2 separate regions of the Homo sapiens genome follow, and region 1 is linked to region 2. Evidence: fine-mapped expression QTL. A gene starts in region 2. The other region holds a variant in brackets. All regions are shown on one strand. Distances are between the middles of the regions.

Region 1 (15,744 bases), 80 kb before region 2:
CGCGCTTTCTGGGGAGACGGGGCCGCACCCCGCGGGGCAGGGGGTCCCGCTGCTACGGATTCTCAGAACTCCCGCGTCCGCTCACAAGAGCCGCGTTTCCCGTGAACTGCGCCTCAATCGTGTCACTCGTTTTAAAAGGCCCGGGGAAGCCTCGCGTTCGTCGCGAGGCGTCTCCCTGCAAACGCCCGGGGAGGCCGCGGTGCCGGTTCCCAAGCCCGGCCGCCGCAGGCCGCGCGGCTCCTGGGCGATCTCGGGGCGCGTCCCTGCTCACAGGGAGTTCCCGTCTTGGCAGAGCTCGGCGGGCCTGTCTGTTACATAAGGGGCGGCCCGGCCGGCTCGGCGGCTGCCCGAGGCCCGACCCGACTCGAGCGCGGACTCCGGGCAGGCGCCCGCGGCCCAGGCCGCCGAGACCCACAGCCCGACTCGGCCTCCCTCGACTCCCCGGCCTGACCTACCCGGTCTCCCCGCCCGGCCTCCCCGTCTTCCCGCCCGTCTCCCCGGCCGCCCGGCCCGACCTCCCCGGTCTCCCCGCCCGGCCTCCCCGGCATCCCGGGCTCCCGGCCCGCAGACAATGCGGAGCCGCCGCCGCCGCCGCCGCCGCCAAACATGGCGTCGGCACCACAACCCCGAGAGGCCGGGCCGAGGCGGCGGCGGCGGCCGGGCGGCCCGCGAGGCGGCGGGGAGGCCTCCCCGGCCAGGCCCCCGCCCACTCACCTTCGGGGCGCCGCGGCCGCGGGAGCCCGGCAAGCGGGCGGGCGCGGGGGCCGGCGCGGCCGAGGCGGTGCTAATGGCGCCCGCGGCTCCTCCGCCAACGGCCGCGCAGGCCGGGCCCCGCCGCCGCTCCTGGGCGCGGGCCCCTCTCGGCCGCGGCGGCTCCGGGCCCGGCAGCGGCGGCCGCGGACTCTCGGGCAGCGGCTCGCGCGGCGCGGGCTCGGGCTCGGGGCCCAGCTGGAGGCCCGGCTCGGGGGGCCCGGCCGGCGGGCGCGGGCGCGGGCGCGGGAGCGGGCGGCGGGCGGCGGGCGCGGGACGCGGGGCTGGCTCGGACTCCAGGGCCGGGTCGCTCGCTCGCTCCCCAGCGAAGCAAACAATGCGGCGAGCGCTCCGCCCGGCGCGCTGCGTGCGAGACGCGCCCCGCCCGCCGCCGCCATGACGCGCGGACTCCGCTGCCTCGGCCGCGCGCGGGGGAGGGGGCGCCGCGAGGAGCGGGGGCCAAAGGGGGCCCTGAGGCGGCGGGGACCGGGCTGGGAGTGGGGGGTCGGGAGGATGGAGAGTGGGGGCCCTTGAGTTAGGGAGGACCGGGCCAGAAGGTCCCTGAGGGGGTCAGGAGGATGGAGAATGAGGGGCCCTGAGGCAGGGGGACGTAGGCCTAGGAGTGGGGGGCCCCGAGGCAGGTGGGGAGCAGCCGGGAGTCGGGGGCTTTGAAGCAGGGGGGTACCGGCTGGGAGTGGGGGTCCCTGAGGCAGAAGGGCATTGGCCCAGGAGTGGGGTCGCTGAGGCAGGAGATGGCCCAGGAGTGGGCGGCTCTGAGGCAGGGGCTACCACCGGCCTGGAGTGGGGGGCCCACAGGCGGGGGGACGGGCCGGGAGTGGGGGTACCTGAGGCAGAAGGACATTGGCCCGGGAGTGGGGGGCCCCGAGGCAGGATGGGGGAGCAGCCGCCAGTCGGGGGCCCTGACGGGGGAACGGCCAGGAGTGGGGGTCCCTGAGGCGGGGGGGACCAGCTGAGAGTGGGAGTCCCTGAGGCAGAAGGCCATTGGCCCAGGAATGGGGGGCCCTGAGGCAGGGGGCGATTGGCCCACGAGTTGGTGGGGGCCTGAGGCAGGGGGCGATTGGCCCACGAGTGGGGGGAGGCCTGAGGCAGGGGGCGATTGGCCCATGAGTGGGGGGCCCTGAGGCAGGAGGCTATTGGTCCGGGAGTGGAGGTCCCTAAGAGGACAGAGGGGGCCCTGCGGGGGCACTGGGTGGGAGTGGAAAGGGCACTGGCCGGGACACGCGACTAGGTAGAGGTGGGTGGTGCAGCCGGGCTGGGGAGCCTCCCCTAGTGAGTGTCAGGCCCGGTGTGCAAGTAGTCCTGCCAGTGTGAGGGCCCTGCCGAGGCCGGCGTGAAGCAGATGCCCTTTAAGGTTGCAAGAAAAGGCCCCTGCGGGTGGGAGTTGAGAGGCCTGAGTCTCTGCCTTCACTTTGGCCTTTTGTGTAAACTCTAAAATTCAGTGGGGTCATAACAATTTTCACTCCAAGATTAAATCCCAAATGTTTTAAGGTGAGGCAGGAGCTCCTTGGTTTCCTTGAGAATTTGTGATCAGGACGATGGTGCTGTGGAATCCCTGGGTTCCAGCAGCACAGCCTGTGGCATCCAGGCAGGCCCCTCAGGAAGAGCAGCTGTCCACCCTGGGACAGACCGTCCCCACGGGGGCAGCCGAGCGGCCCCACTGCTCGGGGCACTGCACCAAACACCTTATTGGGAGTGGGGTGGCCTTGTTCGCCCAAGTGTCCCTGATAGGGGCCAGGCCCCACAGGCCTTTTCCTGGCCAGTCCTCATGCCCATGGCACCCAGTGTGTGGGTTGTGACGTGACGACTCAAGGGCAGGTAGGACCCCAGCCAAGGCCCCAGTGGTCAGTCCTGATCTAGGACTCCCTGCAGACACACCCTTGAGCTTAGGGGGTACAGGCCACTGGGGCCCTGACCTCTTCTGCACCAGACCCAGGAGCTTCGTGTCACCTCCATTCTACAGATGTCTGTTTACCTGTGGCCAAACAAGCAAGCTGAGCCCGAACGCTTCTCTCCTCCACCTCAGGGAAGCCAGATGGAAACCAAGCTGGAGGTTCTCCACAACACAGAGCAAAAGTAAGACACAGTCTCATGAAAGAGAAGATGAAAAGACACGAAACCCTTCACAGAAGAGGAGACGGGGACAGTGGCCTCTCAGACAATGCAGGTGATGCTCAGAGGAGTGAAGAACAAAGCCTCGAACGTAGGCATGTCACAGGGATACTCAGGAAGGCCTTCGGAGAGGATCTTCTTTAGAATTCAGACTCATCCTACAGAGGAGGGGTTGCCAAAATACTAAGAGAATTGAACCGTAACTCATACACAGTGAAACTAGCGTTCCAGTGAGACAGCAAAATAAAGGTGTCTTCACCGCCGGTTAACATCCACATTTACCACACACGCAGTCTGTAAAAGTACTAGAAGAAATACCTTAACAAAGTGAAAAGTGGACCCAAGAGTAAGACGTGGATGCCAGCAAGTAAATCAGTCTGGTCCGTTAAAAGAAAATCAACCTGAGAGAAATCCCGGATGAACTCAACATGACACATGGTAAGGCGGGGCGCAGAAGGAAGTGAAAGTGCACGAAAGCTCTTGTATTGTTTGGTTCGAGGATTTTAGAATCGATAGAAAAAAAGGTTAAAAATTTTAGCTGGGCATGGTGGCTCACACCTGTAATCCCAGCACTTTGGGAGGCCGAGGCGGGCAGACTACCTGAGGTCGGGAGTTCAAGACCAGCCTGATCAACATGGAGAAACCCCATCTCTACTAAAAATACAAAAAAAAAAAAATTAGCCGGGCGTGGCGGCGCATGCCTGTAATCCCACTACTTGGGAGGCTGAGGCAGGAGAATTGGTTGAAACTGGGAGGTGGAGGTTACAGTGAGCTGAGATGGTGCCATTGCACTCCAGCCTGGGCAACAAGAGCAAAACTCCATCTCAAAAAAACAAAAAAAAAAAGTTTTAACTATCAGAAAGTTTCCACAAGAATGGTGGAAAAAGAATTTACCACTTTCAGAACAGCTGAGGAAAAAGCGAAATGAAAAACGACAGCAGCAACAACAAAAAAAAAACAGGAATGAGTAAAAGATAAAATCATGATAAATACAGAACATAATATGAGTTGGCAGAACTAAGTTCAAACATTTGAGTAATCAGAGGAATGTGATTGGATTAAATGCATCTATTAAAAGACAACCTCTCTGAATGGAATATAAATATGGTGAAATATTCTTACAAGAAATTCACCTGAAAAATAACAGATGAAAAATAAAACGATGGGGCCAGGCACAGTGGCTCATGCCTGTAATCCCAACACTTTGGGAGACCGAGGCAGGTGCATCACCTGAGGTCAGGAGTTCAAGACCTGACCAACATAGTGAAACCCCATCTCTACTAAAAATAGAAAAATTAGCCAGGCATGGGGGCACGTGCCTGTAATCCCAGCTACTCAGGAGGCTGAGGCAGGAGAATCACTTGAACCCAGGAGGCTGAGGTTGCAGTGAGGCAAGATTGCCCCACTGCACTCCAGCCTGAGTGACAGAGCAAGACTCCATTTCGTAAATGAAAGGATGGAAATTATCATATGTTTGTTCCTCAAAAGGCACCATAAAGAGACTGAAGAATGAAAAACTAAAAGATATGTACACCTTGCAGATGATTAGTATTTAGAATATATAGAGAACCCCTTCAGATCCATTAGAAAGAGACAAACAAGCCAACAAAATGATGCACAAAACCCAAATCAACAAAGAAACCCATGTCATAATCAGGCTTCTTGCAGAGAACATGGAAAGGCCAATCATCTTACTAGTAAATTTGGAAATGCAAACAAAATACACACCAAATAGGCACCAGCGTTCATATGTGGCAATACTCAGCGATGGCAAGATGGCAGAGCAATACCCTGCTGGCCAGAATGTCGAGTGGGACAATTATTTGGTAAATATCTTGGTCATAAGGCGTTACCCAGTGAAAGTGGACATGTTTATCAGTTACCTCTTGCTGCAAAACAAACCACCCCCAAAACTTTGTAGCTCAAAACAGCAGTCATTCCTTTTGTTCACACATCTGCTATTTGGGCAGGATTCAGCAGGTACAACTAGACTACTTCCTGCATCCTTATCTGGGGCACCTCCACTAGGGGCTGGAGGAGCCACTTCCAAGATGGTGCACTCACGTGGCTGGGACCTTGATCCAGGCTCTGGGCTGAGGGCCTTGGGAACATCCTCATGGAATAGTAGCCATGCTGCAGGAGCAAGGGTCTCAAGAGAAGCAGGTGGGACCTGTATCACTTTTCACATCCTAGCTTCTGAAGTCACACGCATCACTTCTGCCATAGGGACAAGCCTGTCCAGATTCAAGAGTTAGGGAGAATACAGACCCCACCTCTTGGGACATGTGTTATCATCACATTTTAAGAGAAGCATGCTGTATGGGAGAAGTTGTTGTGGCCACTTTGAGAAGATGCAAGCTCCCCCAGTGTGCATACCCATTCCCGGCTGTAGGGTTAAGTCAATTTGTATTCCTAGGTGCATTCCGTGCCTGGGTGTGTGCCTAAGAAACCTGTTCATCAGGGCCGGGCGCCGTGGCTCACGCCTGTAATCCCAGCAGTTTGGGAGGCTGAGGCAGGCAGATCATGAGGTCAGGAGATTGAGACCATCCTGGCTAACACGGTGAAACCCCATCTCTACTAAAAATACAAAAAATTAGCCAGGAGGCTGAGGCAGGAGAATGGTGTGAACCCAGGAGGCAGAGTTTGCAGTGAGCAGAGATTGCGCCACTGCACTCCAGCCTGGGCAACAGAGCAAGACTCCATCTAAAAAAAAAAAAAAAAAAAGAAAAGAAAAAAAGAAACTTGTTCATCAGGAAGCATGTGCATGAATGTTCAGAGCAACACTGTTTTTGGTGTTTTTTTTTTTTTATTTTAACGCTGTTTTTAATAGCAAATACTGGGAGAAATCTTAAATATCAAAGGACGGTAAAATGGACAAAGTGAGGTGTATCCACGCAATGGAATAGCACACAGCAACAGAAATGAATGAATTCCACCACCAACACGGCCAAATCTCAAACACATAATTTTAAATGGAAGAAAGAAATCTCAAAAGATTACAGAATATGATTCCATTTACACTCAGCAGACAGAGCTAGGAAATAAGTATGTACAAACACACACACACACACACACACACACACACACACACACACACACACACCCATATCTTTTCTGATACCTCTTAGCAAACCTTGAGTTCATACTGATACCTGTACCTCCAGTTACAATCTAGCATGGAGTTGATTCTACCCTCCTCTGTTTCTACATAACTATCTATGCCTTCACTTAGTAGCTCAGTCCCCCGCTACATAACCATCTCTAGGCTATACAGGACAGAAACTTGGCCCCAGACACAACCACTGCCCCCCATTTTGCACCAGCCAAAAATGCGGTTCTGGGGGCATCACTGCTCTCCAGAATGGTTATATCTGCAGGCTGAAAGCACAGCCCAAGAAAAGGCAAGGAGGAGGATGCTCATGTTGTTTCTGATATTCTGTTTCTGGCAGGAATAAGACAAAACCCTTCTTCTTTGATCTATCTCACCTTTAATTTATTTAATTTTTATTTTTACCCGGTATCTGCAACAATCTACTTTAGGAGACTATCCTTTCACAAACATTAAAACGTTCTTTAAATGGTGTTTTTCTCACTTCAGAATTCAGGAAAAATAGTTTTACTGACATTTACTTTTAATAAAAACGTAGTAATTTGCATTGTTGCAGTAGAAATTTGTCCTCCTTGTCACCAGGATATAATCAGACAAATTAATAGTGGAGCCCAGGCCTTACATGGGTGTCATATTTGAGAATAACTTTCCTGTGCTTCCACAACACGCCCACCTTTAAGGAACAAGGGTTGTGGCTTGTGTGCTGAACCAATGCCCACACAACCCTCAGACCCATACTGGCCGGGCACCTGTACTCTGGCACACAAAGCCTCAGCCTCACAAGTAGTAAGAAGGATACTTCCTGGCAGGCCAAGAGCCATGGCAGACACTGGAACCTTCTGGAAGATAGAAACTTGCACACACACAGGTCCCGCGGGCACACCTGAGGGAGGTGGATTTGGTTCGGCTTCCTGGCCTAGGAACAGAAGAGCAAATAAGAGAAATTAAAAAACAAAAAATCTCAGGTGTGATGTAGGCTCAGTCCTACATTCCTTATGATGACACGTCCAGACAGAAGTTGATTTTCCGGCTTGGTCATTGCATAACGCCATCTGGTTTACATGTGTCACCTAACAAGGACACTCGTGCGTGGTAATTACCACTTCTTGCAGCACCTGTGTAGATGAATTAGGTCAGAATGCAAGACTAGCTTTCTGTGGTCAAGAATAACCTTCGGAGATTATTTATCATCCCAAGAGGGAGCTAATAAAAATGTCCCAGATTAAGGATTAGACACCCCAAAATGAGTGTGTCCATTCAGTGGCAGGCTATGTTCCTGAGCAAGCCTGCCAGGCAGATTTTCGGATCCTCTGGAGTGTGCGCCTGCTTAACTTGCTATATACTATTGATTACGATATTTTACAACTCAGCAAGGGTAGACTTTAATTTGTTGAAGATAGATGGCTAAGTAAAATTATTCCTCTCTGACAGCAATGCAAATAAATTTTGCCCAGTAGTGAGTGATAGAAATTATTTCTGTCCAGTGGAAAAGATTACAGTAAAAAAGGTTGCAGTTTGACTGGGCGCAGTGGCTCACGCCTGTAATCCCAGCACTTTGGGAGGCCAAGGTGGGAGGATCACCTGAGGTCAGGAGTTCGAGACCAGCCTGGCCAACATGGTGAACCCTTGTCTCTACTAAAAATACAAAAATCAGCCGGGCGTGGTGGTGGGCGCCTGTAATCCCAGCTACTCAGGAGGCTGAGGCAGGAGAATTGCTTGAACCTGGGAGGCGGAGGTTGCAGTGAGCTGAGATCAAGCTATTGCACTCCAGCCCGGGCGACAGAACAAGACTCCATCTCAAAAAAAAAAGAAAAGAAAAAAAGAAAAGGTTGCGGTTTATGGCCCTGTAGAACATTAACCAGTTTTTTTAAAAATCTAAATAAGCAGAATTACTCAAACTTTTTTAAGTCACTACAAATACTTCCTTCTCTCCAATCTTTTGAACCAGCCTCACCATCATGCTGGTTTCCTCATTAATGATTAAAATAAATCTTTGACACGTCTTCACTTTAGAGTTGTATGAGTCATGTTTTTAACTTTTTTTTTTTTTAAGACGGAGTCTCGCTCTGTCACCCAGGCTGGAGTGCAGTGGCGCGATCTCAGCTCACAGCAAACTCCACCTCCCAGGTTCATGCCATTCTCCTGCCTCAGCCTCCCAAGTAGCTGGGACTACAGGCACCCACCACCACGCCCGGCTAATTTTTTTTTTTTTTTTTGTATTTTTAGTAGAGAAGGGGTTTCACCATGTTAGCCAGGATGGTCTCGATCTCCTGACCTCGTGATCCGCCCACCTCGGCCTGCCAAAGTGCTGGGATTACACGCGTGAGCCACCGCGCCTGGCCCTGTTTCTAACTTTTTAAAAAGTATGCTTTGACAGCTCCAACATCTAGCTGCCTTCTCAGCCTCTCCTCCAGGATGTCCTGTAGGCATCTCGAACTCAACGTATCTGGCACTCAGCTTTTGGTCTTCATCCCCAAACTTCTCTGCTGTCTCCTTCCTCGGTTATGGGTTGAATTGTGTCCCCCCTGCAAAAGGTATGGTGAAGTCCTAAGCACAGTACCTGGGAATATGAGCTAATTTGGAAATAGGGTCTTTGCAGATATAAAGTTAGGATGAGGCCAGGTGCAGTGGCTCACGCCTGTAATCCCAGCACTTTGGGAGGCTGAGGCGGGCGGATCACCTGAGGTCAGGAGTTTGAGACCAGCCTGACCAACGTGGTGAAACCCCGACTCTACTAAAAATA[C/T]AAAAATTAGCTGGGCATGGTGGCGCATGCCTGTAGTCCTAGCTACTCACAAGGCTGAGGCAGGGGTATCACTTGAACCTGGGAGGCGGAGGTTGCAATGAGCAGAGATTGCGCCACTGCACTCCAGCCTGGGCAATAGAGTAAGACTCCATCTCAAAAAATAAATAAATAAATAAGAATAAATAATAGGCCGGGTGTAGTGGCAAAAAATAAATAAATAAATAAGAATAAATAATAGGCCGGGTGTAGTGGCTCAAGCCTGTAATCCCAGCACTTTGGGAGGCCAAGGCAGGCAGATCACGAGGTCAGCAGATGGAGACCATCCTGGCTAACACGGTGAAAACCTGTCTGTACTAAAAATACACAAATATAGCCAGGCGTGGTGATGGGTGCCTGTAGTCCCAGATACTTGGGAGGCTTAGGCAGGAGAATGGCGTGAACCCAGGAGGTGGAGCTTGCAGTGAGCTGAGATCGTGCCACTGCACTCCAGCCTGGGCGACAGAGCAAGACTCCATCTCAAAAAAAAAAACAACAAAAAAGACATAAGAAAAAAAAGAATAAATAATAATAATAATAATAATTAAGTTAGGATGAGGTCATTGAGTTGGGCCCTAATCTAATGACTGGTATCCCTTTCTAAATTACACAATCTGCTAACCTTCTCTGTATCATTCCAATTTTAGTGTATGTGCTGCTGAAGCAAGCACCTGGTATTCTTATAAGAAGAGAAATTGGGACACAGACACACAGAGCAAAGACAGCTATGTGACAATGGAGACAGAGCAGAGTAATGTGGCCACAAGCCAAGGAATGCAAAGTATTGACGGCCACCAGAAGCCGAAAGAGGCAGGAAAGACCCCTCTTTATGGGTTTCAGAGGGAACACAGTCCTGCTGATGCCTGGACTTCGGGCTTCCGACCTCCAGAGCTGTGGGAGAGTGAGTTGCTGCCATTCTCAGCCCCCCAGGCTGTGGCGCTTTGTCATAGCAGCCATAGGACATGAATCCACTTTCTCAGCTAAGGCAACTCCGGGCTTCCTAGGTGAGAGGCACTCCTGCACTGCTCATGTCTGACCCGCTGGCAAAGCCTGTCGGCTCCCCTTTCAAAATAAGTCCAGAGCCAGCCCTGTGTCACCGCCTCCTCTGTTCCCTCAACACCTCTCACCTGGATTATCCCAGTAGCCTGACCCACCTCTCTGCTTCACCCTTGTACCCCTCTGCCTCTTCCTCTCTACAGCAGCCCAAGTGACAGCATCTCCTGCGTTTAACACCTTCCACTGGCTTCCCATCTCCCTGGGAATAAAAGCCACAGTCCTCAACTCCACAACAAAAAACACAGAACCTGATTTTTTTTTTTTTTTGAGACGGAGTCTCACTCTGTCGCCCAGGCTGGAGTGCTGCGGCGCGATCTTGGCTCACTGCAACCTCTGCCTCCTGGCTTCAAGTGTTTCTCCTGCCTCAGCCTCCCAAGTAGCTGGGATTACAGGCGCACACCATCACGCCTGGCTAATTTCTGTATTTTTAGTAGAGACGGGGTTTCGCCATGTTGGCCAGGCTGATCTCGAACCTCTGACCTCAGATGATCCGCCCGTCTCGGCCTCCCAAAGTGCTAGTATTACAGGTGTGAGCCACTGCGCTCAGCTAGAACCTGATTTTAAAATGGACAAAGGACTTGAATAGACAACTACAAATAGCCAATAAGCACATCGAAAGATGATCATCATTAGCTCTCAGGGAACTGCCAATCAAAACCACAATGACATCCTACTGCACACCCACCTGGAGAGCTAGACCCAAAAAGTCAGGTAGTGAGTGTTGACGAGGATGTGGAGACACTGGAACTCTCTCATGCTGCTGGTGGGACCGTCAAATGGTGCACCTGCTTTAGAAAACGGTCGGGCAATGCTTCAAAATGCTGAACACAGAGCGTCCATAGGTCCCAGCAAGTCCACTCTGAGGCATATCCCCAAGAAATGAAAATATGTGTCCACATACACACTTGTATGTGAAGACTCATCGCAGTGGTATTTCTCATAATAGCTGAAAAGTGAAAACAGGTCATGAATGGATAAATCTGGCATATACATAGATGGCATATAATTTGGCAGTAAAAACCAAGTATTGACATGTGCTGCATCATGAAGAACCCTTGAAAACATGACGCAGCCACAAAAGATCACATATTGTAATGATTCCGTTTACATGAAATGCCCAGAATAAGCAAATAGGTTGCCGGGGTCTCAGGGAGGGGAAACGGAGTGAGTGCTAACGGGTATGAGGTTTCTTTTGGGGATGATGAACAGGTTCTAAAACTGACTATGGTTAGGACCGCACAGCCCTGTGAATACACTAGAAACATTTCATTGAACTTGTTTTTGAGACGGGGACTTGCTCTGGTACCCAGGCTGGAGTAAATCACAGCTGCTGTAATCACAGCTCACTGCAACCTTGAACTCCTGGGCTCAAGGGATCCTCCCATATCAGCCTCCTGAGTAGCTGGGACTAAGGATGCGCACCACCACACCCGGCTAAGTTGTTTTTTTTTTTTTTTTTTTAATTTTTTTGTAGAGACAGGGTCTCGCTTTGTTGCCCAGGCTGGTCTCAAACTCCTGGACTCAAGCACTTCGCTCTCCTCAGCCTCCCAAAGTGCTGAGATTATAGGCAGGGGCCACTGCACCTGGCCTGTCCATTTTAAGTATACAGTAAACTGCATGGTATGTCTGTGAATTCTTTATCAATGAGGCTATTTTAAAATCCATAGAATAAATAATTACATAAATAGGCCGGGCGCGGTGGCTCACGCCTGTAATCCCAGCACTTTGGGAGGCCGAGGCGGGCGGATCACGAGGTCAGGAGATCGAGACCATCCTGGCTAACACGGTGAAACCCCGTCTCTACTAAAAAAAAAATAGAAAAAAATTAGCCGGGCGTGGTGGCGGGCGCCTGTAGTCCCAGCTACTCGGGAAGCTGAGGCAGGAGAATGGCGTGAACGCGGGAGGCGGAGCTTGCAGTGAGCCGAGATCGCGCCACTGCCCTCCAGCCTGGGCGACAGAGCGAGACGCCATCTCAAAAAAAAAAAAAAAAGTACAGAAATAAAAATTAAAAGTAAAACCAGAGACTTCTAGCTCAAGAGGAGATGGAACGGACTCATCTCTCCGTGCTCCTCCAGCTACACACACCTTTCAGCACTGGGAGCCAGTACAGCAGACAATTGCAGGCCTCGAAGTGGGGGGAAGAGGGGAACCGGCCGGTGGGGACCGCGGACTGGAAAAAGCGCGGCCGCCTGGAGCCTCCCATCCCCGCCCGGCAGTGGAAGGCAGTCCAGGCCCAGTATCTCCTGACCCAAAGTGGTGCAAGGGGGTCCAGGCCTAGGGCCTCCTCTCCTCCCCTCGCCTCTCCCCACGCCTCCCCAGTAGCTGGGGGAAGCCCCACAGCCCTCCCATAGGGGAATCTGCAGAGGCGGAGCCGGAACTTGCTGGCACCAGGTCCGCCCACTCCCCACCTAACAGCTCGGAGAAGCCTGGAGAGGCGCCTCTATCCCCACCGGCAGCAGCAGCCTAATTACGTAGACGCCTAAATAGCAGATCTAGTAGATAAACTCAATTCTTGTAGGAACCACAACCCACAAAAGTAGGCCAGGATGTGCTGCACCTCAACAGGGTGACTGCCTGCTGAAATAGCAGGTTTAAGTAGGATTCAGAGTCTGCTGCTGATATACAAACTGTCCAGATGACGATTCCACAATCATGCATCACACCAGGAGCCGGGAGACTCATAACTTGACTAAGAAAAGACAAATAACGATGCCAACACCGAGATAAATCAGGTATCGGATTATCCGAAAATGATTGTAAAGCAGCCCTCACAAAAATGCTTCAACAAGCATTTACAAACTATCTTGAAACAACTGAAAAATAGAGAAAAAAAGTTTTTGGTTTTTTTTTTTTAATGAAATCGGGGTGTGGGGAATGAGGGTAGGCGGCTGAGGCAACAGAATCGCTTGAGCCTGGGAGGCTGAGGCTGCAGTGAGTCATGATCGCACCGCTGTACCCCAGCCTGGGTAACAGAGAGAGACTCTGTCTCAGAAATAAAGAAAGAAAAGAAAAGAAAAAAGAACCAGATGGAAATTGTAGTGTCGAAAAGTACAATAAACCAAACTAAAAAACTCACTGAATGGGCTCAATAGCAGCATGAATATGACAGAGGAAAGAATCCATGAGCTGGAAGACAGAACAATAGAAGTAACCCAATCTGAAAAAAAGATGGAAAATAGACTGAAAAAAACTGATGGAACATAGCCTCAGGGACCTGTGGGACTATTTTTAAAAATCTAGGCCAGGCGTGGTGGCTCACACCTATAATCCCAGCACTTTGGGAAGCTGAGGAGGGCAGATCACCCGAGGTCAGGAGTTGGAGACCAGCCTGGCCAACATGGTGAAACCCTGTCTCTACTAAAAATACAAAAATTAGCTGGGCACAGTGGCTCTTGCCTCTAATCCCAGCACTCTGGGAGGCCAAGGTGGGCAGATCACCTGAGGTCAGGAGTTCGAGACCAGCCTGATCAACATGGCAAAACCCCATCTCTACTAAAAATACAAAAATTAGCCAGGCATGGTGGCAGGCGCCTGTAATCCCAACTACTTGGGAGGCTGAGGCAGGAGACTCACTTGAACCCAGGAGGCAGAGGTTGCAGTGAGCCGAGATTGCACCACTGCACTCCAGTCTAGGTGACAGAGCAAGACTCTGTCTCGAAAATAAATAAATAAATAAAAATCTAAATTTTGTGTCATTGATGTTTAAGATGGAGAGGAGAAAGAGCATGGAGCTGAAAAAAATATGTGAAGAATGAACAACAAAATCTTCCCAAATTTGGCCAAAGACATAAACCTCTAAAGTCAAGAAACTCAGAAAACCCAAATAAGAGAAATCCAAAGAAATCTATGCCGCACACATCGTGATTAAACTTCTGGGAACTAATGACAAAGAAAAAACCCTTGAAAGCTGGCAGAGAAACAACACATTGCCTATGGGGAAGAACATAGCTTTGTATTGGAAACCACCGAGGCCAGAAACAAGTGGTCTGGTGTTTCTCACGTGCCGAAAGAACTATCAGCCACGGATTCTATGTGGAGTGAAAATGTCCTTCGGGAACAAAGAGAAATAAAAAAAATTCACAGACCAAGGCACATGAAAAGAATTTCTCACTAGCAGAACTACCCTTAAAGAACAGCTAAAGGGGGGCTGGGCGCTGTGGCTCACGCCTTCATACCAGCACTTTGGGAGGCCGAGGTAGGCGGATCACATGAGACCAGGAGTTCGAGACCAGCCTGGCCAACATGGTGAAACCCCATCCCTACTAAAAATACAAAAATTAGCCAGGTGTGGTGGTGGGCGCCTGTAATCCCAGCTACCCGGGAGGCTGAGGCAGGAGAATTGCTTGAACCTAGGAGGCGAGGTTGCAGTGAGCTGAGATCAAGCCATTGCACTCCAGCCTGGGCGACACAGCGAGATTCCATCTCAAAAATAAATAAATAAAAGAATAATGATAAACATAAAAATAAATTAAAAAATAATGGAATTGTCTATTTTCTATATATACTTAGTGCCACATCAGACAGTGTTATAATTTTGCTTCAACCATCCAATATGATTTTAAAAACTTATGAGAAGGCCAACCTAGTGTCTTTACCGGTGCTTACTCATTCTACCATCTTCTTTCCTCCCTGAACATTCGTTTGTTGTCATTTCTTTTTTTTTTTTTTGGAGACAGAGTCTCGCTCTGTTGCCCAGGCTGGAGTACAATGGTGCAATCTCAGATCACTGCAACCTCCCTCCACCTCCCAGGTTCAAACAATTCTCCCTGCCTCAGCCTCCCAAGTACCTGGGATTAAAAGCACACGCACGCCACCATGCCCGGCTAATTTTTTGTATTTTAGTAGAGACAAGGTTTCGCCATGTTGCCCAAGGCTGGTCTTGAACTCCTGACCTCAGGTGATCCACCCACCTCGGCCTCCCAAAGTGCTGGGATTACAGGTGTGAGCCACCACGCCCCGCCTGTTGTCTTTTCTTTTCTGTTCGGAGAATTTCCTTTACCTGTTCTTCTTCTTTTTTGAGACAGAGTCTCACTCTATCACCCAGGCTGGAGTGCAATGGCCCGATCTCTGCTCACCGCAACCTCCGCCTCCCGGGTTGAAGAGATTCTCCTGCCTCAGCCTCCCGAGTAGCTGGGATTACAGGTGCCCAATATCTCACCTGGCTCATTTTTGTATTTTTAGTAGAGATGGGGTTTCACCATGTTGGCCAGGCTGATCTTGAACTCTTGACCTCAAATGATCCACCCACCTCAGCCTCCCAGAGTGCTAGGATTATAGGCATGAGCCACCGCGCCCGGCCAGCTAGGTGTAAATTTAAGAAAACATGTATAGAACATGCTAAAAACTATGAAATGCTGATGAAAGTAATCAAAGATCCAAATAAGTGGAGAGATAAACCATCTTCACAGATTGGAAAGCTCAAATAGAAAAAGTGCCAGTTTCCCAAGTATGGTGGCTCAGACCTGTAATCCCAGCACTTTGGGAGGCTGAGGTGGGCGGATCACTTGAGGTCAGGAGTTCAAGACCAGCCTGGCCAACATGGTGAAACCCCATCTCTACTAAAAATACAAAAATGAGCCAGGCATGGTGGCAGGTGCCTGTAATCTCAGCTATTCAGGAGGCTGAGGCAGGAGAATTGCTTGATCCCAGGAGGCGGAGGTTGCAGTGGGCCGAGATCGCGCCACTGCACTCCAGCCTGGGCGATGGAACATGACTCTATCTCAAAAAAAAAAAGAAAGAAAACAAAAACACCCAAAATTGACCATAGATCTAAAACGTGAAACTATAAAACTTTTAGGAAAAACATAGGAGAAAATCTTTGGGATCTTGGGCTAGGCAAAAAGTTCTTAGGTTTGATACCAAAAGCGTGAGCCATAAAATAAAATATTGATAAAGGGAACCTCATTAAAACTAAAAACTT
Region 2 (14,680 bases):
AAGACCCTGTTTCAAAAATTAAACACACACATACATCCCCCCAACAGTAAATCAGTGAACCTGTTTCCAATGAAACTATAAAAATGCATGTCACAAAAAGAGCACTCACAGGTAGGAGCAGCCTCTGGCAGCCGTGATGTTGAGCATGGGGAAGGCATAGATGATGAAGCGTAGCTCCTTGTGTGGCAGGAGGGAGTAGAGTGCCATGAAGCCCAGTGCCAGCACCGTCGGCGCGTGCGTCCTTCTGTCTACCAAGCCCAGGGGGATGAAGAGCAGGCTGCAGCCCAGGCCGCGGGGCAGGGCTGAGTAGAAGTACCACAGCAGCGGGGAGGTCTGCGGGCTGGGTTAAGGAGGCCACGCACCTGTCCACGCATGAGCCCGTGGGCTAGGTGGCAGGGTCAAGGTGGAGAAGACGCTTGAAGACAGTTGTGCTGAGAGATGCAGCCTGGACCACGGCTCGTGTGCACAGACACCACTCAGGCCTCAGGCCCCTCCTAAAAGACAGAGCCCAGGCCACAGCTCGGGTGCACACATACCACTTGGGCGTCGGGCCCCCTCCAGGCAGGACCAAGGCAGCAAGGGCCACAGGACGTTCGGTCTCTGTACCCTTTTCTTCACTGTTAAAAACAGATGGTCGGCCGGGCGCAGTGGCTCATGTCTGTAATCCCAGCACTTCGGGAGGCCAAGGTGGGTAGATCACGAGGTAAAGAGATCGAGACCATCCTGGCCAACATGGTGAAACCCTGTCTCTACTACAAATACAAAAATTAGCTGGGCATGGTGGCATGTGCCTGTAATCCCAGCTACTCAGGAGGCTGAGGCAGGAGAATCACTTGAACCAGGGAGTTGGAGGTTGCAGTGAGCCGAGATCATGCCACTGTACTCCAACCTGGCGACAGAGTGAGACTCTGTCTCAAAAAAAAAAAAAAAAAAAACCAAAAAACAAAAAACAGACGGTCACGGGTGACACACATGTTGGGATTCGTTATGCTGTTCCATCTATGCGTGTATGTTTGACATAATTCCTAAGAAAGCACTTTTTAAATGCAGATTGTCCGGGCCGGGCGTGGTGGCTCACACCTGTAATCCCAGCACTTTGGGAGGCCAAGGCAGGTGGATCACCTGAGTTCAAGAGTTCAAGATCAGCCTGACCAACATGGTAAAACCCCACCTCTACTAAAAATACAAAAATTAGCCAGGTGTGGTGGCGTGCGCCTATAGTCCCAGCTACTCATGAGGCTGAGGCAGGAGAATTGCTTGAACCAGGGAGGTGGAGGTTGCAGTGAGCCAAGATCATACCACTGTACTCCAGCCTGGGCGACAGAGCGAGACTCAGTCTCAAAAAAAAAAAAAAAAAAGCAGATTGTCCGAGGAGCAGAGGAGAGGCTGGGGTAATCTGGGGCAGGGCTGTTTCCAGCCCTCAGGCTGTTTCCTGGCTGAGAGAGGGCAGCCAGGACCTCACCTCCCATGGCCAGCATTTCCCAGGAGCAAGTGGGAGGGAGGGGCTCCATCCTGACCCTGCAGCCACGCTGCAGAGAAGGGAGAAGCAGCTGCTTCCACTGCCCATGGAGGCCCAGGAGATGTGGCTGCAGGTCCCACCCATCGCCCTCCTGCACGGACACTGAAGGATACCCCCCAGTTGGAGCTTTTGTTCAGGACAGTGTTGTACCAAAGCACCTTTCCTTCCGGCCAAGTGAGCTGCCGCCAAAAATAAGAGTCCACAGCAACCGTCAGTCCTGACAAAATAAAATAGAGTTTCTTAGTCGCAAACACAGCCATCAGTAAACATCCCGCCACAATGCAGCCCCCATCACTACAGAAACTACAAGCTGCTTTCATATAAAAGAGGTTGGGCAGGGTGGGAAGATTGCTGGAGCCTAGGAGTTCAAGGTTGCAGTGGGCCATGATCATGCCACTGCACTCCATCCTGGGTGACAGAGCAAGACTATCTCTAAAACAAAAAAAGAAAAAAGACACCAACTGTGTCGAGGACACCACTGCCCAGAACCACCGCCTGGCGCAGGGACAAGCCGCCCTCCACTCTTGTGGCCTCCCCCAGCCCAAGGACAAGGGACAGACCAGTGAACAGGGGCTCCTAAGGCGCACGGTGGGTCCCCCTGGAGATCCCCGGGCAGGGGGCTTAGGATTGAAATGTTTTCAACACTGCTAAATTTAGGGTCATTTTATTTCATGGGGATGAAAACCTCCCAAATTTCTCTTGACCTTTGTAAAACAAGGCAAAACAAAATCCAGTTAGAAGCATCCCACAGTGACTGACTTACCTAAACAGAGGATCCCTGCCGGGACGGCGTGGCGAAGGGCTCTGACTACAGAAACCTTTCGGTTGCCCAAGGCCAGCAGCAGCAGGAGGCCCAGGAACAGGCACAGCTCCACCCTGAACACGATGATGGCGAAGGCTGACAGCCAGATGAAGCGGGCCCACTCGTGCCGCAGCCAGGCCGCGAGGGCCAGCAGGACTGCAAGACAGTGCGGGAGGGTGCTCGTCAAGACACAGGGCCCACCCGGCCCAGAAAACACCCGGGGAAGTGAAGGGTGATTCCTTTTCCTATTATAAAAGCCACACAAATATCCCAGAAAAGAAACTGCTCAGAGCCGCTCCCCGCACCTATGCTGTTGGCCAGGAAGTGTGTCCCAACCCAGCATGGAAAACAAAGAGCCTGGTTTCAGGTCACAGACCATCCTGAGGAACCCAGTGGGGAATGGCCATTACGGGGGAGGCACTGCCATCAGCTGCACAGCCCGACTCAGGGGAGCCCCTGCCCGGCACCATGGGTGTGCAGGCCCGGCCGGCAGCTACGTACCTACAGGCAGGGCCAGCACATTGGGCAGTGTCCGCGTGCAGTAGAACATCAGGTGGAACTGCATGGCCGTCACCCAGCAGAACATGGTGGCCACCATGGCCCCGAAGTGCCGTCTCACTTCCTTTTGTAACGTCCAGAGTCCAAAAATCACGCCGAGTCCAAGCACTCCTCTAACTAAACAAAGACAGTGACAGCACCTGAGCCTGCAGTGGAGGAGTATCCAGTGGGGCCCCCTACGTGGGTCCTTCTACACAGATCTTTCTATATGGAGTTTTCTATGCTGCTGCAATGCCAGCTGACGGCTACGTCAGGCAAAGCAGCCTTGAGGGCATCGTCTCCATGTTGAAAACAGACGACTGGACCCAGGCCCCCTGCGCTCCTGTCGGGAACTGAGGACCCTTGCGGGGGCTGCTCTCTGAAGCATGAGGGAGGACACACAACTTGGGGGTGCCACGAGCTGAGCCCTACACTAAACCAGAGACCCCACCGGGCTGTGGCATCTCCAGGGGAAATGTTTGCAAAGGCCGGGCTCAGACCTTGCTCTAACCAGCAGCCATGAGGAGGTGGGATGTGGCAGGAACACAGGCTCCCAGGCAGGAAGGGGGTCAGGACCCCTCTCCCCATTTGACAGCAGGAGCCACCTCTGGGCTGGTGGTCTGATGAGGAGGTGGTGAGGGGGCAGGTGTGCCCAGGACAGTACCCAGCCGACCACACATCCTCACCGTGGACCGGCCTGTCAGCCGCTGGCAAGAGACTGAAAACAGGAAGAAAAATGAACTTCTGGGTGGCTCTTGCTACCTTTCCAGAAGGCCAGAGGAACTTCGAAGCCATGTGAGAAGCAACTGGGTCCAGGCAGCTGTGGGGGCCAATGGGCAGAGATACCCAGGCACTGCCAAGGGGGCCACGGATGTCTGAGGGCTGGACCTGCTGTTCCCAGAATACCCCATGTGCATACCAGGCATTTTCTTTTCACTGATTGCTGGATTCGGACTGCAAATGTCTTTTTTTTTTTCTTTTTAAGGACAGAGTTTCCCTCTGTTGCTCAGGCTGGAGTGCAGTGGCATAATCTCGGCTCACTGCAACCTCTGCCTTCCGGGTTCAAGCAATTCTCCTACCTCAGCCTCCGGAGTAGCTGGGATTATAGGCGCATGCCAACACGCCCGGCTAATTTTTGTATTTTTAGTAGAGACAAGGTTTCCCATGTTGGCCAGGATGGTCTCAAACTCCTGACCTCAGGTGATCCCCCCGCCTCGGCCTCCCAAAGTGCTGGGATTACAGGCGTGAGCCACCATGCCCAGTCTGAATGTCTTAATAGGACATTTTTCACTGATACTCACAAGTGGGTCTGGCTCCAGCTGCTGTATTTTTGGTGCTGGAATTTCCCCCGGGCTTTTAAACAATTCACAGACCCCAGCAAAGCCCCGCTTCCCCTTTTCCCCATCAGGTCCATCCCCTGCGTCTCTTCTCTTGGTTTTCCATCTTCCCAAATGCCCAACAATCTCAACCCCGTGCCCAACAAGGGTAGCCTCGGCCTCACGATCAGCCTCGGCTGCGGGATCACCCTCGGCCCCGGGATCAGCCTCGGCCACGGGATCACCCTCGGCCCCGGGATCAGCCTCGGCCGCGGGATCAGCCTGGCCCCGGGATCACCCTCGGCCCCGGGATCACCCTCGGCCCCGGGATCAGCCTGGCCCCAGGATCACCCTCGGCCCCGGGATCACCCTCGGCCCCAGGATGACATGCTCTTCATCCAGAGAGGAAGGATTTTGGCCTGTGGCAGGGGCTGGGGGGGGCACTAGCAATTCCAGGTCACCTTAGTGGGATCAGGAAGGACACAGGGTGGGCTCCCGTTCACCAGCTGAAGCTGCAGCCCTCCAAGGTTCTGTCCAGCTGGAGTCCACCCAGCTCTGCCCAACCTCCCAACCTCTTGCTGCCAACCCTGGAATAAGCAGAAGCTTCCAAGGGAATGTGGACTCAGCCCCGGAATTGCCTGTGGACTTCCTTTCCCTGGCTCGTGGCCCCCCAACTCCTCCCCATTTGGGGCTTCCTGATGCCTCTACAGGACATGCACGGCTTGTCCAGCTGTCCCCGTGCCATGGTGGGTTTCCGTTCCCAATCTGCCCCTTCAAGAAGCAGAACTGCTCCTTCCCCAGGAACGTGCTACTTCTTAAAGCTCTCCACACAAGCTGGACTGACTCGCTGGAAGCATGTCTGGGTATTAAAAGCAATAAAAGCGTACTGAAATAAAAAAGTGGTGATTGCTGACTTCAAAAACTCAGGTTGTGTGACTGGGCGTGGTGGCTCATGCCTGTAATCCCAGCACTGTGGGAGGCTGAGGTGGGACAATCACTTGAGCCCAGGAGTTCAAAGCTGTAGTGAGCTATGATTGCACCACTGCACTTCAGCCTAGGTGACACAGCAAGGCCCTGTCTCAAAAAAGAAAAAAAAATCGGTTTTTAGAACAATATGTACAAAACGTTCTAATTTTTTTTTTTTAAAGTCCTCATGTGGGCACAGAGAAAGACCCAGGATTTGCACACAGGCCCTGCAGTGGTGGCCTCTGGGAATGTGAGGTTTCTGTTTGTAACATTCCCCAAGGCAAATGGTGCTGCTTCTGCAGGAATAAAGGCTGTTGACCCCATGGGGGCTTGCCAGGTGAGGCGGGAGCAGCAGGCTCAGGTGGCGAGAGCTGCCTCACAGGCAGTCGGCATTTCTCTTGTACCTGCCGTCACCCCTAATTTCACAGTCAAGAGTGTGGAGGCACAGAGGGGCTGACTCAGACGTCTTAGGCCTGACCTGAGCACCTGCTCTGAGCCGCCATGCCACGGTGATCGAGGGCAGGCAAGACTAACAGACAGCGTTCCTGGGCAGGAGGGACCGCGGCCTCGCTGAGGTCACCCGATGACACCACAGTCCCTCACTCCCTCCTCCTTTGTTGAAGACCCCCTTACCTATTAGCTGAGAGTAAAACTTGGACATTTCTAACAGCGAAAGCACGTAAACCGCGGGGCTGGAGAACACTGCGATCACCACTGGCCCGAGGAACGTCCTGGGGACGACTCCGGGGAACTCAAGATGGTCGTACTGCGAGGAGAAGGGCAGGTCAGTGCACCGGGGCCCTGCCAGCTGGTAACATGAGGTTTTCCCCAAAGACAGCAGGGGCCCCTCACCTGCTCCAGGTCTTGCCAGTGGTAGAGCAGGTCATGTGTGGCCTGCAGGTTGAAGCTCTCCTCCACTTTGGTGTAGGGACAGATGACCAGGTGGACAGTGGCTACGGCCACCAGCAGCCCCAGCAGCAGGGGCCGCCTGCCTGATGACCCCTTTCCAGCCATTCCAGGCTTTCAGCTTCACGTACCTTCACAGGCCAACAGTGCGAGACACCAGCCGTTAGCACTGCCACTCCACGCATGCTGGAAAAGTGGAAACAGATTCCTGAGGTTCGAAAGTCACGCTTGCGCTCACGTTTGGGAGATCCGGGTAAAGGGTTAGCAGAATTCTCTGAACTACTGTCTTAGTCGCACTACTACAAATCTGAAAACGCATCAAGATGGAAAGTTTGGAGAAAAAATCACACTTGAGAATCTTTCATACTGTAACCAGTGATCTGACACTTCCAGCTCTGTGAATGTTTTTCTAGGCAGAAGGATCTCAGTCGCAGAACCCTGAGTCTGACCAGGCCTGGGCCACGAGGGCAATGGAGGGTGGTAAATGGCCCCTGCCCCCCAGTCTAAATCTGGCAGGAGAGTCAGCAAAACCCAGGCTTGGCCCCGAGGGAACCGGCTGAAGAAGACGGAATGGGAGGCTGAGGGGTGCCAGTTAGCTGGGTGGGAGGCACCAAGCTGGAGAGTGGTGGACAGGGGCCCCGGGAGGGCAAGAAACTGAACGTAGTACAGCTGCTGGGACACAGGGCTCGAGTGGCCAGCAAAGCCCCCGCTCCCAGGAATGGTGGGATGGGGCTGTGGACGCCTGCGCCGAACCCCACCCTGGGGGCTGGGAGAAGCCATGGCCGGCTTTCCCAAAGGTGGCACCACACTGGCCATGAGCCTGCATGTGAGCCTGGGAAGACTGGCAATGGGTCCCCCAAACACTAACAGGACAACCTCAGGGGCCCGTGGCACGGAGCTTCCTGAGAGGCCAGCAACATGTCCAGCTGCTACACGTGAGAGACCAAGGGAGGGGAGGGGGCAAACTCTTCACGTTTCTGGCTTCTTTTAAAACAGATTTGATTTTATTCAATCCAAACCAGAAGGGCCAGAAGCAAAGGGAGAGAGAACCCCAGGGCTTACCATTTATTAAAACTACTTTAAAAATTTTTTTTAAGAGACAGCGTCTTACTCTGTCACCCAAGCTGGAGTGCAGTGGAGTGATCATGGCTCACTGCAGCCTCAAACTCCTGGGATCCTTTTGCCTGAGCCTCCTGAGTAGCCGCAGCTACAGGTGTGGGTCACCACACTCAGCTAAGTTTTCTTATTTTTTGTAAAGACAGGGTCTTGCTTTGTAGCCCAGGCTGGTATGGAATTCCTGGCTTCAAGCCATCTTCCTACCTTGGCCTCCTGAAGTATTGGGATTACAGGCGTGGGCCACCATGCCCAGCCAAAACTATCTTTTGATCAAACGGAGAGTTAAGAAGTATACAAAGATGGCAACCAAAGGAAAATCTGTAGATTAGAAGGAAGGAGAACCCTATTTGATATGGTGGGCAGGGGGTGGAGAGAAAGAAAAAAGAAAGCTTTAATAATTTTACGACTGAAATGGTATGCAGTTCTCTCCTTTGCCAAATATAAAAACCTGGGGCCGGGCGCGGTCGCTCATTCCCGTAATCCCAGCTCTTTGGGAGGCTGAGGGCCAGGTGCGGTGGCTCATTCCCATAATCCCAGCTCTTCGGGAGGCTGAGGTGGGTGGATCACGAGGTCAGCAGATCAAGACCATCCTGGCCAACATGGTGAAACCCTGTCTCTACTAAAAATACAAAAATTAGCTGGGCATGGTAGTGCACGCCTATAATCCCAGCTACTCGGGAGGCTAAGGCAGGAGAATCGCTTGAGCCCAGGAGGCAGAGGCCGCAGTGAGCCGAGATCACACCACTGAAATCCAGTCTGGGCCACAGAGCGTGACTCCGTCTCAGAAATAAATAAATAGATAATAAAAAAATTTAAAAAAATAAACTTGGTATCAAACAAAGAGAAAGGTCGAAGGACTAGGTTAGGAATCACTAACTGAGGGAGGGCCCACTCAGCTGTCTCCCACTTGCTAAGACACAAGCTTTTTGACGGTGGGGGGTTTTTGATGCTGGATGATTTTTCCCACCAGCGCAGCCTCAGCACCAAGGACAGAGGCCAGCCGCTGTGGCCTGAAGGCTGCCTCGCTGCCACCTCCCCTGCTGGACTCATCCTGCGGGCAGGGCTTGCTTGGTGGACTCACTGCTGAATCAGCAAAGCCTGCCGCACAGTAGGCACTCAACAAGGCTGCCGAAGAAGAAATCGGTAAAAACTCCTACATGGGGTTCTCATCACACCAGCTCACGTGCTTATTAAAAATTCCAGCAGCCGGGAGCGGTGGCTCATTCCTGTAATCCCAGCACTTTGGGAGGCTGAGGCGGGTGGATCACAAGGTCAAGAGATCGAGACCAGCTTGGCCAACATGGTAAAACCCCGTCTCTACTAAAAATACAAAAAAATTAGCTGGAGTGGTGGCGAGTAGTCCCAGCTACTTGGGAGGCTGAGGCAGGAGAATGGTGTGAACCCAGGAGGTGGAGCTTGCAGTGAGCCGAGATCGCGCCACTGCACTCCTGCCTGGGCGACAGAGCAAGACTCCATCTCAAAAATAAATAAATAAATTAATTAAATTAAATAAAAATATGTTCCAACGGCCGGGCGTGGTGGCTCATGCCTGTAATCCCAGCACTTTGGGAGGCTGAGGTGGGTGGATCACAAGGTCAGGAATTCAAGACCAGCCTAGCCAGCATGGTGAAACCTCATCTCTACTAAAAATACAAAAATTAGCTGGGCATGGTGGTGTGCGCCTGTAATCCCAACTACTTGGAAGGCAGAGGAGGAGAATTGCTTGAACTCGGGAGGCAGAGGTTGCAGCAAGCCAAGATCGCACCACTGTACTCCAGCCTGGACAACAGAGCCAGACTCCGTCTCAAAAAAAAAGAAATAGGAAGCAAGCCGGATGTGTTGGCTCACGCCTGTAATTCCAGCTACTCAGGAGTTCAAGACCAACCTGGGCTACAGAGCCAGACCCCATCTCCACAAAAATAATCCCAGCTACTCAGGAAGCTGACATGGGGGGTACTGCTTGAGGCCCGGAGTTCAAGACCAACTTGGGCTACATCATGAGACCCCATTTCTACAAAAATAAAAAATAAAACGGAACGGGGAGCATCTACGTGCCAAGATGTGGGAGGTGCACACAGCAAGTGCTGCTTGGCAGTCCCCCACAACCCCACTCCACACCTCTCCACCCAGGGGAGTTCCCCAGCAAGGAAGAGTTCAGCTGTGGGGTGAAAACATTACGTGCTGACTCTGACACTCCTGGCGGGCCCCCAGCACCTCCTCGGACCCAACAAGGTGTGCCTTCTGCTGATGACCAGCACAGCTCACTTTCGAGGGCATGAGAAGACCAAGGGTGAGTCTGGATTCTCTGCCAGGAGCACGGGAAGACCAAGTCAACACCAGCAAGCACGAAAACCACGACGAACCCCCCACCAGGCGAGGGTGAACGGACACTGTCCTGCACTAGCCCACTCTGCTGGGCAGCTGGGCAGCAGCTGTGGCTAATCTAAGTGACGGGTGCTTCGAGAGCACCCACAGGTTAAAACGGGCCCAGGCCATGACACTTTAAAATGGTGGTTTACAGAACAATGGCATCTCAGATTAGGGAATGACCTGCAAAGACCCTCTTGTCCCCATCAATCCAGATTTTAAGGCCTCTACCGAAATTGATCAAATCAGGCTAAGCATGGTGGCTCACGCCTGTAACCCTAGCACTTTGGGAGGCTGAGGCAGGCAGATCGCTTGAGGTCAGGACTTCGAGACCAGCCTGGCCAACATGGTGAAACCCCGTCTCTACTAAAAATACAAAAATTAGCCGGACCTGGTGGTGGGTGCCTGTAATCCCAACTTAGGAGGCTGAGGCAGCAGAATCACAGGAACCTGGAAGGCGGAGCTTGCAGTGAGCTGAGATCGCGCCACTGCACTCCAGCCTGGGCGACAAAGTGAGACTCCGTCTCAAAAAAACAGAAAAGAAACTGGTCAAATCAGATGTTACTTTTTTTTTTTTTAAATGTGCAGTGTTATCTGCACTCCTTCCTTCCACAGGCAGGAGTTCTCTGAAATCCAGACGCTGCACGTTTTATTTCCCCTAATTTAAACCAGGGGTTCCTGAACATGAGCGAGTGTTCATCACCTCAAGCGCCTGTAGAAATGCAGATCCCCAGCCCCCAGAGACCCTAAGTGGACCCCAGATCCCCAGCCCCCAGGTGAAAAACCCATCCCCCAGGTGGGAGGTCCGGCCCCAGGTGAGGAGCCCGGCCCCAGGTGAGAGGTCCAGCCCCAGGTGAGAGGTCGGGCCCCCGGATGAGAGGTCCGGCCCCCGGGTGAGAGGTCTGGCCCCCAGGTGACAGGTCCAGCCCCAGGTGAGGAGCCCGGCCCCAAGTGAGGGGTGCAGCCCCAGGTAAGGAGCACGGGGCTGTGACGCGTGGACATGCGCGGTGAGGCCTCAGGAATCCAGCGCCAGCGCCAGCTCGGGTCGCGCCCTCGCCCGCCTCCTCCCTGGTCTCGCCGCGCGCCCGCCTGAAGGCCCCGGTCGCGGCAGCGCGCACTGACCTCCGCAGCTCCCGGCGGCGTCCTTCGAAGCGCGGCTGCCTGGGCCAGCCTCGGCAGGAAGCAGGACGGCGGAAACAGAACAGAGCCCGAATCTAAAGTCCTTGCCCAAATCTAAAGTGGCTACCGCAGCCCCGGCCGCTACGGCCGCAGAGACCCTCTGTGCCCTGAGTAAAGATGGCCGCCGCGGGCTGCGCGCGAGGGGCGGGGAGCGGGAGGCGGGGTCGGACCTGCACGCCCCGCCCCCGGACTCCTGGCGGCCGCTGATCCGGGGCCTTCCCATTGGTCACCTCTCGTGGCGAACTCGGATTGGGCCATATCAGGCCGGGGCGGGTCCCATCAACCAATAGCGGCGCGGGGCTGGCGGGTGGGGCGGGGCCTCGCCGGCGCCGTCAAGTAGCCTGGGGGACAGGCCGGCGCGGCTGGGAGCGGGTGGGCGGCCGGGAGGCCGGAGCAGCACGGCCGCAGGACCTGGAGCTCCGGCTGCGTCTTCCCGCAGCGCTACCCGCCATGCGCCTGCCGCGCCGGGCCGCGCTGGGGCTCCTGCCGCTTCTGCTGCTGCTGCCGCCCGCGCCGGAGGCCGCCAAGAAGCCGACGCCCTGCCACCGGTGCCGGGGGCTGGTGGACAAGTTTAACCAGGTGGGAAGGGGCCGGGCGGGGTCGTCAACCTTGGGCCCGGGGTCCCCCTCACCCTGCATCCGGGGTCGCCCCACCTTGGGCCCAGGGTCGCCCTCACCCTGGATCCGGGGTCCCCCTCACCCTGGATTCGGGATCCCCCTCACCGTCGATCCAGAGTCCCTCCACCGTGGTCCTGGAGTCCCCCTCACCCTTGACCCGGATCCACCCCCACCGTGGAACCAGGGTCGACGCCACCGTGGGCCTGGAGTCCCCTCACCCTCGACCTGGGCTCGCCCCCACCCTGGACCCGGGTCAGGTGGTACCAAGCACTATGGGCACTGTCTCCTCGCAGGGGATGGTGGACACCGCAAAGAAGAACTTTGGCGGCGGGAACACGGCTTGGGAGGAAAAGACGCTGTCCAAGTACGAGTCCAGGTGGGTGCCCTGGAGCACCCCTGTGGGTCTTGGCCTGGCGCTGTCCTGGGAAGTCGTGTCCTGCCTTTGGTGCCTGTGTTAATGACAGGGAGACAGAACAGCCCCCGAGGCACCAGTCACCCGTCCGAGTCACCTCGGCTTCTCCCTGAGGACTAATGGCTGGCCCCTCTCTGGCCTTCCAGCTTCTGCTCTGGTCCCTACCCCCTCAACAGACAGTGGCTTTTCAAAATGTAAACTGGAACACCAGCCCCACTTGTGGGAACCGCTCCTGGCTTCCCCTGACAGTGGGGTCCCCTTATTCTCTGTGCCCGGAGTCCTGGCTCCCCGGCCCCTGCACCCAGGTTGGCGTATTGGTTCGGATTTTTCTTCACTGCCTTGGAGGCGCTGACGGTGGGCCGGTGTGGGCCTGTGTTTCAGCGAGATTCGCCTGCTGGAGATCCTGGAGGGGCTGTGCGAGAGCAGCGACTTCGAATGCAATCAGATGCTAGAGGCGCAGGAGGAGCACCTGGAGGCCTGGTGGCTGCAGCTGTGAGTGCCTTAAAACCTCTTAGAAGATACTTTTTATTTTCCAACTTAGAATTTGAAATAACCTCAGACTTAGAAAGGTACAGGAACAGTAGGGAGCTCCCACCTGCCTCGCACCCACCTTACCCCTGCATTACCGTTTTTTATCACCAGAGTCAGCGATCAAAACCAGGAAATTAAGGAGAAGATTCTGTCCACACCTAGACTCTTGTTTCCTGGACCTTACAATACTCCAGAGCATATGTTACGTTCAGCTGCATGTTTGTTTTAAAGAACCGTGTCTGCTGGGATTCAGTGAATGTTTTCCTCCATCCTCAGGAAGAGCGAATATCCTGACTTATTCGAGTGGTTTTGTGTGAAGACACTGAAAGTGTGCTGCTCTCCAGGAACCTACGGTCCCGACTGTCTCGGTGCGTTTCTCCTCAGGGAAATCCCATCTCCTACGTCACTTCCCCTCTTCTTCTCATGATTCTTGGGAGGTAAAAGCACAGAGGGGACCTGGGGTGCATCAGCTTTCTGTAGGGTCTGGGACCCTGCCGGATGGCTGCCTCCCCCATCCCCAACACAGCTTGGAGCACTTCGCACCGTCTGGCTGCAGCCTCACCACTAACCTCATGCTTTAGCGTAAAACTCTGAGTATGTCTTCCCAGCTGTGCTGTTAATTCAGGGGTTCACAGACTCAGGTTGTTCACAGCTGAGTCCACTCACCTGAGAGTCTGTCCTGACTGACCTGTCCAGGTGCTTCTCCCTGTGTGCACAGAGGTGACCACACCACAACTTCTGTGGCTGCTATTGCAGAGAGCGCAGGGCACTGGGTGTCTATCAGGCTGGGCACATGGCCTTGAGCCCCAATGGGTGCCAAGGGACAGGGCTCTTCTGTGAAGAAGTGTGCATTGAAACTGAAGTCACGGTTTACTGTTTATAAAAGCCAATCTCGTGGTCAAGCGAGATCAGGTAGCAGAAGTTTCAGGTTCAGACCCCCCACCCGCCCACCATCAGCCTTCTGCCAGCCCCTGCTGCTGTCCCTGGCATGCACTGGAGGCCGCAGCTAATGTTCCCACTCTCCCTGCAGTCCCCGCGCCTGACGCGTCAGTGTCCCTATCACCATGTTTCAGCTGAGGCTGCCCAAAGCCACACAAAGTGCAGTCATGTGTAACGACCAGGCGTGTTCTGAGAAATGCGTCATTAGGCGACTTTGTCATGGTGCAAACATCACAGCGTGCACTCCACACGCCACACGCCACACGCCTAGATGGTGCAGCCGCTCTGCACCTAGGCTGCCTGGCAGGCCCTGCTGCTCCCAGGCCGCACACCTGCACGGCTCGTGAGGGTCCTGAGTACTGTGGGCCATTTGGCACGTGGTAAGAATGTGTCACCTGAACACATCTAAACATAGAACAGGTAATGAGGCACATTGTGATGTCACTAGGCAATAAGAGCCGCTCAGCTTTAGTATCATCTTAGGGGACAGCTGTGCTATGCAGGGTCCCTTGTTGACCTAAACGTCATCATGCAGCACGTGGCCATAGTGAAGCCCAGGAGCCTGTGGCTTGCTCCACTCAGGCGATCCACCGCCAGCCCTGCAGACCCAGGAAATCAGTTTCCCCAAACACCCACTCCAAGCCTTCAGGCTCATGTACGTCCTCAGAATCGTACAGGGTTTGGGTGCCATGCGTTCTCTCCGTGTGAGAACACCGCACCGGTCACCACCAGGTGTGCTCTGAGCATGGTTTTGTGTCCCCTAAAGCATGCCAGGGCGGATCCCAGAGGCCCTGCAGCGGGAATGGCCACTGCAGCGGAGATGGGAGCAGACAGGGCGACGGGTCCTGCCGGTGCCACATGGGGTACCAGGGCCCGCTGTGCACTGACTGCATGGACGGCTACTTCAGCTCGCTCCGGAACGAGACCCACAGCATCTGCACAGGTACGGGCTACGCCTGGGCTGGCCCCGGGGTTGAGGCGGGATGACAAGAGCCCCTTGCTGGAGCTGCCTGCCTAGATGGGAACAGGGGCCTGTTGATCTTTAACCCCAGATGTCCAAGGAAGCTTCGAGGGCCCAGAAGGATGAATGAAAACATCAGAGGATAGAGGCAGAGGTTGTCGGGCACTTCCTGTCCCGTAACAGCCCTCAGAAGGGAGAAGCTACTCACCTTTCTCTCTAGTTCAAGGTCCACCCCGACCTTGAGTTGTGATGGGCCATGCAGTGCACAGGTCCTGGAGGTGCCGTGTGGGCCCCGCACCGGCCCAGAGAGCAGCATCTGTCAAATCCCTGCAGGCCGTTATGAGTGGCATCTTTCCAAAGGACGTTTTCTCCCTGGTTGTCACTGATATGTAGGAAAACTCTGAGTGTCTCGGACGTGAGTGTGTGGTTGGCCGGCAGCCCCTAGGCTATTCTGGGCAGACAGACCCGTGGATCGATAGTCAGGACCGGCCTCTCCGATTCTTACGCCCCTC

Evidence for each region.
Region 1: its variant is fine-mapped to the expression of ALG12 in T cells (TOPMed, PIP above 0.99).

The regions. Positions count from the first base shown.
Region 1 is chr22:49,826,783-49,842,526 of GRCh38, forward strand. LOC105377205 (a long non-coding RNA gene) reads right to left here. Exons shown (of 5, transcript NR_188597.1): 3 at 10,726-10,770; 4 at 10,510-10,612; 5 at 5,667-6,905. It overlaps BRD1 (bromodomain containing 1), which reads right to left and starts at 1,091. Exons shown (of 13, transcript NM_001304808.3): 1 at 715-1,091. RefSeq lists silencers at 256-425, 1,156-1,225, 12,254-12,303. The variant C/T (reference allele first, on the strand shown) is at 8,733.
Region 2 is chr22:49,907,612-49,922,291 of GRCh38, forward strand. It overlaps ALG12 (ALG12 alpha-1,6-mannosyltransferase), which reads right to left and starts at 10,827. Exons shown (of 10, transcript NM_024105.4): 1 at 10,652-10,827; 2 at 5,993-6,232; 3 at 5,774-5,906; 4 at 2,823-2,996; 5 at 2,283-2,477; 6 at 1,633-1,736; 7 at 110-333. The coding sequence starts at 6,154. It overlaps CRELD2 (CRELD disulfide isomerase 2), which reads left to right and starts at 11,023. Exons shown (of 10, transcript NM_024324.5): 1 at 11,023-11,287; 2 at 11,619-11,701; 3 at 12,119-12,229; 4 at 12,545-12,636; 5 at 13,974-14,150. The coding sequence starts at 11,159. RefSeq lists silencers at 10,417-10,616, 10,727-11,226.